2 separate regions of the Homo sapiens genome follow, and region 1 is linked to region 2. Evidence: fine-mapped expression QTL. A gene starts in region 2. The other region holds a variant in brackets. All regions are shown on one strand. Distances are from middle to middle.

Region 1 (4,000 bases), 38 kb before region 2:
ACATCTGTTAAACAAAGTTTCAAATTTTCTTTTGTTGTACAACTGGTTAATCATAGCATATCCTACCAATACATGTATTTCTTTGTAGGCTGTCAGGATGCGATGTCTCCATAGCTGTGTTCATTGTTTTTCTAGATAAGTAAAAACTGAGTTTAGGAGGTCTTACGAAACTTTTATTAGGAAGAATAATAGAGTAGGCATGAAGGTATCAGGTAGCTAAATGGCTTTTGAGACGCCACCACTGTTGCAGTGTCCACTTATTTATCAGTGTTAGAGTCATTGAAAGGTTTTATTGAATTGACTGCCCAACATCAACACCAAGAACTTGAAGGCTATTGTATGAGACTGGATTTAGGAGAAGAGTGAGTGATCTTATTGCCCTTAATTTAGGAAGCTCAAATCCATGGAAGAACATTTAATGATCCTTATTCCTAGAGATAGCTGAGCTAGATACTCTGCATGAATTGAACTTTCTGATAGTAATGATGTTGGTTTCTTCCCACAGATTGAAGAAATTCATGTAGGTCTTGAGGCTTCATTATTGGTGAAGGCTCCAGGCACAGGGGAATTGTTTGTAAACTTTGACCCTCAGATATTAATCTTATTTAGAGAAACAGAGTGCATGGCCCAGATGGGTCTGGAAGTCTCTCCACTGGCAACTTCCCTCTTCCAGAAACGAGATAGATACAAAAGGAACTTCAGTAACATGAAGGTATACTACTTTTATTTTTTCCCCCCATTCTTGGCTAGCTCTGGAATGTATTATAAAAAAATATGGTGATGTGTCATATTCAAGGAGCAGAAAGTGGCCAGGATGAATGGAGTGACTGAGGGGACAGTGCCATGGGGTGCAGCTGCAGAGTTGGCTGGGGCCAGGCCGTTACAGGTCTTGCAGGCCAAGATGAGAAGCTTGGGTTTTATTTTGAGTGTACCAGGAAACCATTGGAGGATTTCGAGCCACTGAAAAAGGCACGATCTCTTTTTATAATAAAAGTTATTCTTACTGCTGGGTGGAAAATGGATGTTAAGAGGGACGAGGGGTATCAGCGGGAAGCCTGTTTGTGAAGTGTTGCACTGGCCCAGGATGAAGATGAGAGCTTGAACTGGGATGGCAGCAGAGTTGTTTGGAGAATTTAGAGTTATGTCAACAGTCAGGTTATAAGAGAACTCAGGAATAATACCTGTGGTTTTGGTGTGAGCAGTTCCATGAATTAAAGCAGGGGTGCCGTAGAATGCTGTGTAGGTTGCATTCTTCATAACTTGCACAATACCATGCAGGGGCCCTGACTGTAAGTTCAAGTTATGGAGATGGCGAAAACCGAAACTAGTGTATTTGGAGCAGCAGGAGGGAATCAGTAGTTCCCATTTAAGTACAAGATAGTTTTTAGACAGCCAAGTGGCAGTGTTGTCCATGCAGTTGGATACTTAAGTCTGGAGTTCAGTGGAGAAGCCAAAGTGGGAGGCATGCTTCTGAGAGTTATCAGAATATCATTGTTATTTAATGTCATTGTCCTGGATGAGATCTCTTAGGGGAGAGAATACAGACAGAGAAGAATGGAGGGCCACTGGGCCAAGCATTGGGTTGTTCCAGTATTAACAGATCTGAAAGAAGAAGACAGGTGTGCAAATAAAACAGAGGACTGACCTCTGAGCTGGGAAGAAACCAAG[T/C]GTCAAGGAGACCAAGGATGGCCGGGCACGGTGGCTCATGCCTGTAATCCCAGCACTTTGGGAGGCTGAGACTGGCAGATCACCTGAGGTCAGGAGTTCGAGACCAGCCTGGCCAACGTGGTGAAACCCCGTCTCTATTAAAAATACAAAAATTAGCTGAACATGTTGGCATGTGCCTGTAATCTCAGCTACTTGGGAGGCCGAGGCAGGAGAATCTCTTGAACCTAGAGATGGAGGTTGCAGTGAGCTGAGATTGCACCACTGCACTCCAGCCTGGGTGACAGAGCGAGATCCGTCTCAAAAAACAAACAAACAAAAAACAACAAAAAAAGGAAGCCAAGGGTATGAAAAGGCTACTGAGAGAGGGACTGGTCACCAGTGGCAAATGCTGCTACCCAGGGGATGAAGAAGGTGAGATCAGAGATGCGGCCATGGAATCTGACAACATGGAAACCATTGTTAAAATTTCATAGTGGTTAACATCACGTGACAATACTAAGTCCATGCACTTGCACTGTACTTTACATTTAAAGCCATTTTCATGCTCATTATTTCATCTGATCTTTTCTACCACTACGTTAGGTAAGTAGGACAGAATACTATTATTTTATTTCGTAGATGACAAAACTGTGGCTTAGAGAAGTTAAAAGATTTAGCAAAGGTCTCATAGCTACAAAGTGGCAGAAGTAAGACCAGAACCCAGACTTGTAGTCCATCGTCTTCCCACCACTTCATGTCATATTAAAAAGTTGTATTGGCAATGGACAGACATTCCTCAAATGTAGACTCATAAAATACCAGTCAGCATGTTGAGATTCCCTTTTAGACTCTTTCACATTAGGAAACTCACTTAGTCAATTTACATATTCATAAAGAAAATAATATTTTTACTAAGAAACTATAATTATAAGATTATGGAATTACTGATAATTTAATTGTATTTGCAGAGTTGTTGTTTCACTTGTCTGTTTCAGGCAACAAACACTTGTAAGCACGTTGTAGGGTTTACAATAACCGTATCATTATATCATGACTTTATGGGTAAAGAACTTGAGTGGGGCTTGCATAGGTGATTCTTCTGTTCCATGTATTGTTGACAAAGGTTGTTTATTGGTATTCAACTGGCAGATGTTCAATCTGTAAGGTCCAAGAAGGGTTCTTCTAGTTTCTGTTTCTTTCCTGAGGAAAGCTGGAAGGTACACTCCAGTGGGACTGTGAACAGGCACATCTATACATGGCCTTCCAGTATGGAGGCCTCTGGCTAGTAGAATTTCTTATATGGCAGCTCAGGGTTTCAAGAACAAGCGCTACAGTGAACAATAAAGAAGTCACATGGTCTTTATAATAGCCTCAGATGTCTCACAGCATCATCTCTGTTGTACTCTGTTGGACTGTAAACCTACCCAGATTCAAAAAAAGGGGATGTGGTTCCCCCCTCCCCCATGAAGGGAAGAGGATCAAAGAATGTTTTAAATGACAATTCAAGGGAGTAAATTATCATCTCATTAACATTTATTATCTTGGAGGTTGAGAGTTAAAAGTTTCTGCTCAACCTGAGTAGCTGGTCAAAGCAGATCTATTGGCAGGTTTAGGTGACCATCTGAAGTGTTGCAGAATTATTGTGCTGAATATTTGACAGAGCTTTCAGGCTTTTGCAGATATGCCAAAGTAGCTGAGAATTTGTTTCTTCATCTCTTCCTTGGAAGACAGTTTAACTAGAAAGAGAAGACCAAGTACAGGCTAATAGTTACAAATATAGGTTCTGAAGCCAATTTAATCTGGATTCAAATCATTATCTTTGGGTAAATGACTTCACCTTCTAAGCCTGGGTTTCTCTTTTGTCAAAGCAGTTGAGTAATCCCTTCTGGGATTAAAGGTGGGAAGTAGAATGCCTGCTAGAAGCAGATTCTAAGAACTGCTTCCAGATAGAATAACTGGTGGACATTGAAAAAAAACAAGCAGTGGATACAAGTTTCAGGAAATATGTAAGTAGCTGCGAATAGAACCAGAAAATTTAGACTTTTCTAAAGTGGCTTTTATGGACATTGAAAGAATCTTATAGAAATTGTGGAAAAACATTATATGAGGAAAGGATTATGAGGTCCATCTGGGAAATACTGTGTTTAACAAAATTTTCAAAGCCTTGCAAGGCTTCTTACTTCCTTAAGCAGGTTTCTAAGAATCATTAATATTAGCTGTGACCACCCAAGAGGGGAGATATTGTATGCAGCATTTTCAAAATTTATCTATCAAAGGGACATTTTTTCTTATAGAATCTCTTTGGACCTAGTACTCTAGGCAAAACAGTTTGGAAAACATTCATCTATTATCA
Region 2 (4,000 bases):
GAAAATACTTGTTTTAATTACATTGATTAATTAATTTTTATATCCAAAACATATTTTTACTCAGGTACCCACTTATATATACATCATCAAGAGATTATATTTCAATTATTCTTGTTTTCATTTTGGCCTCAGGCACATGTTAGAGCATGTGTAACTCTGGTTTTATTTCATTATCCTCTATTTGTGGGGTATGTCTGAGACCATCCACTGGACAAAATAATGCAACGTATAATTAGCCACTCGGCTCTTGGGAACATTTCAGCTTGCTGCTGACAAGCCTGACTGCACAGCTCATAGCTCTACAGGCTGTAGAATCCAGGAGGAACATTATTTTGAATTTCAGAATAATCATTTTACTCGAAAAACCTTTTTTACCAATATCTGTGGACTAGAAACTCTTAGTTGTTTACATACTCTATTTTTTATATTTGTACAAATTTATGGGGTACATTTGAACTTGTTTTTTTTTTTTTTTTTTTTTTTTGAGATGGAATCTTGCTTTGTCACCCAGGCTGGAGTGCAATGGCGTGATCTCAGCTCACTGAAACCTCAGCCTCCCTGGCTCAAGTGATTCTGCCGCAGCTTCCTGAGTACTGGGATTACAGGCAACAGCCACCACGCCTGGCTAATTTTTGTATTTTTAGTAGAGACAGGGTTTCACCATGTTGGCCAGGCTGGTCTCAAACTCCTGGTCTCAGGTGATCTGCCCGCCTTGGCCTCCCAAAATGCTGGCATTACAGGCATGAGCCACTGTGCCTGTCCACATGTGAACTTTCATTACATGTATATAATGCATAGTGGCCACCCCTCACATTTTGGACATACAAACCACACAGTCATGAATTTACATTTCCTTGTTTCATTGCTTCCATTTGCTCTTTCTGAAATAATGTTTTTGTTCCCCAGAATCTTCTCAAATATATGGTAATTGTGCAGAAAGTGGATACCATTGAGATATGAATTTGTTGTTCTATTCTAGCTTTAAAATATCACCCAATTCTCCATATATATGTGTATCAATACTTTTAATGTTGGAAATACTGTGTACTTCATACTATTTCAAAAAAATTTCTCTTATTTCAGTTTACTTGTTACACTAAAGTAATATTGGGATATAAAGTTAGACCATTAGTAATCTTGAGTTTGGACTTCTCAGGATTTAGTGAGTTTTAATGAACTTGGTTACTATTCATACCAAACCAGAATAAAGGATAGACAGGCAATAATATACCCTAGGGAGATAGAAAAGACACTCATGTAAATTAAGTAAAAATTATCTGGTTGGGGTGGGGAAACTTTTCTTTTCAATGGCATCTAATCTACAGATAGAGTTATTGGGAGGAGTATTTTTTCAATATATATTTATTGAACCTTTACTATGTGTGTGATGTACTCTTCTAGGCGCTGTGGGTAGAACAACAAATAAGGGAAAGATCTCTGTTTCTATGGACCTATATTTCTAGTGAAGAGCATACAAATATTCAGAAAGATGCATGGAATATTAAAACAATTTGGTTAACAATTAAGAATATGGAAATTAAACTTTTATGCAATAATACGACTTCAAGTCCATATTATGTAGGGCTAGAGAGAACCATGAAGGGATAAGAAAGAGAAGAAGAGACACAAAGGTAGGCTGTATAATCATTTAGGATTAAGTTTGTCTGTAAATAACAGAAACACCACATACAAAATGGCTAATATAACACTGATGTTTATATTGCTCACGCATAAAAGAATTCCTAATGTAGGTGGTTCAGGTTGGAATGGGGGCTTTACCACATCATCAGGGACCCAAGCTTGGTCTGGCTCACTCATCTGTCTTTCCCAGGTGTGACCTTATTCCCCATACTACCCATTACATCCAATGCCACTACTCACATTTCATGTAGAAGAGTTGTTCTCAATCTTTGCAACGTACCAGATACACTGAAGGAACTTAAAAAAATCCCAATGCCAGGGCCACTTCCCAGACCCATTGAATCAGAGTCTCTGTACGTAGGACCCAGGCAGGCATCAGTAATTTTTAATGCTGGCGAGATGATTCCAGTGTTCAGCTATGAGATCATTCCAGTGTTCCGCTAAATTAAGCACTGTTGATGTGGAACTTAGTCTTCTGACTGCACATTACTGCAAAGGGAAGCTGGGAAATTCAGTAATTTAGCTGGGTAATTATGAGCCCACATGGAAAAGCAGAAGGAAAAAAGGACATTGGGAGGCCACCCACAGGCAGTCTGTCTCAAAGAGGAAAAGGGGAAGACAGATTAACTATGGAAGAGGCAGTAATCTTGCACACATGTACATCAAACATGAGTGGGTTGGACACAGGTGCGTGGGAAGTTAGAAAGAGACTCAGAAAAGGGGAGGCTAAGGAGAGAGTCCAGGTGTTATCATATTTGAAGATTGAATTAGTTGTCTGGTCCCCACTGATGGTTCTATAAAAGCTCCATATTATATGAAAAACCAGAGACTCCATGAAATAGGCACAGAAGCTCAGTAGGGCAAATATTATTCTCGTAGCCATAGCAGCACTGAGGGTAATTATATTACCCTGGAAGCTTGGTGGAATCAAGTCTAATGCCTGATCTACTCCTTAGATTATAAATCTCCCACCCTTCTCTATGCTCTGGATCAAAAGGGAAAAAGCTAGACTAACAATGAACAGTAAGTGGGGATGAATTAATCACTTGGTTGCATCACTTTAAAAGCCAGCAACATAATTAAGGTTGTAAAGAAAGCGGTTAAAAATTAAGATTTTTAAAAACCTTTTTAATTTGAAACAACAGCACAACAAAAACAAAACCAAACCCTAAACCTATTTCTTATTTTAGGTACAATATGCCATTCAAAGCCCAGATTCAAAAATGGGTGCAGTACCTTTCCAACTCAACAGACATCATCGAGAGCTGGATGACGGTGCAAAACCTGTGGATTTATTTAGAAGCTGTCTTTGTGGGAGGAGACATTGCCAAGCAGCTGCCCAAGGTTTTGTAATCTTCTTTATGATTTCATCAGATTTTTCAGAGAAAGCTCTCAGAGCGATTACCCCCTTAAATAATGCAATAATATTCCACTTCTATTGAACCCCCTTCCTTCAATCTTTTTGTTGTCACTGTTAATGCTGTTATTCTTCAAAGGGAGTGAGGAATTGTGGAAAGGAAAGGGGTGACAATCAGAGTAAGAATGCTGTAAAACTGTGGAGGTTTGATAGGAGATAGAGGGTTAAAAAAACAAAAAATAAGTGGTCGCATAATTGATATGCTTCTTTAGATAATTTCAAGGTAGAATTTGGAACAGTGTAGAATTATGGTGCAGTTATCTTGACAATGGTAGGCTAAGTTTTTCTACTACAGACATTTTAAAGTAATGCATACTATACAATGTACCCAATTATATCTGTACAGTAAAATTGAGGGGTGGAAATGTGCAGAAAAAATCTCCAAAACAAAAAGACCTTCTTTTCAAGATGTCAAGTATATATTTATCATCAAATCGTAATCATCTTACTGGGTATATATGGAGTATATTTTGAGATTTTTAAATGAACATTTTAACCAATTCTCAAGGATTCTTATTCAATTACCTTAAGTCGTATGCAAGATTATAACATTTTAACAATATATTTCAGTTTTAGAAGCATGATTATTTTAAATGTTTTCATCACATAGGTTTCTGAACTTCTTTTTTGGTTAGTTTTCAGTTTAATTACAGATGACAGATAAAATCAGACTGCAGACCATTTATTTTGGAGGCAATAGTGAAATGTATTCACTCACTAAAATTTTACTTTATTTTTGATTTGTATTTGTGCATGTTTTTCATCTTCTTTTCTTAAAGGTTTTAAGTAGGAGGTTTGGATTTTTTTTTTAAATTATATTTAAGTTCTGGGATACATGTGCAGAATGTGCAGGTTTGTTACATAGGAATACAGGTGCCATGGTGGTTTGCTGGACCCAGCAACCTGTCATCTACATTAGGTATTTCTCCTAATGCTATCCCT

Alleles and levels. Alleles are on the strand shown, and positions count from the first base shown. SD is a standard deviation of normalised expression in the study named.
In carriers of allele T in region 1, the expression in cerebral cortex of the gene that starts at base 1,998 in region 2 tends to be lower than with C alone (moderate effect, 0.51 SD a copy in GTEx).

Evidence for each region. PIP is the estimated chance that this variant, and not a neighbour inherited with it, causes the effect.
Region 1: its variant is the best candidate, but not a certain one, in a credible set for the expression of DNAH5-AS1 in cerebral cortex (GTEx, PIP 0.53).

The regions. Positions count from the first base shown.
Region 1 is chr5:13,896,918-13,900,917 of GRCh38, reverse strand. DNAH5 (dynein axonemal heavy chain 5) reads left to right here. Exons shown (of 79, transcript NM_001369.3): 15 at 506-712. It overlaps DNAH5-AS1 (DNAH5 antisense RNA 1), which reads right to left. Exons shown (of 3, transcript NR_199035.1): 3 at 1-3,383. Among named protein-coding and RNA genes, the nearest start is that of DNAH5-AS1, 38 kb to the right of the region's middle. The variant T/C (reference allele first, on the strand shown) is at 1,669.
Region 2 is chr5:13,858,437-13,862,436 of GRCh38, reverse strand. It overlaps DNAH5-AS1 (DNAH5 antisense RNA 1), which reads right to left and starts at 1,998. Exons shown (of 3, transcript NR_199035.1): 1 at 1,882-1,998. It overlaps DNAH5 (dynein axonemal heavy chain 5), which reads left to right. Exons shown (of 79, transcript NM_001369.3): 30 at 2,832-2,985. RefSeq lists an enhancer at 2,371-3,570.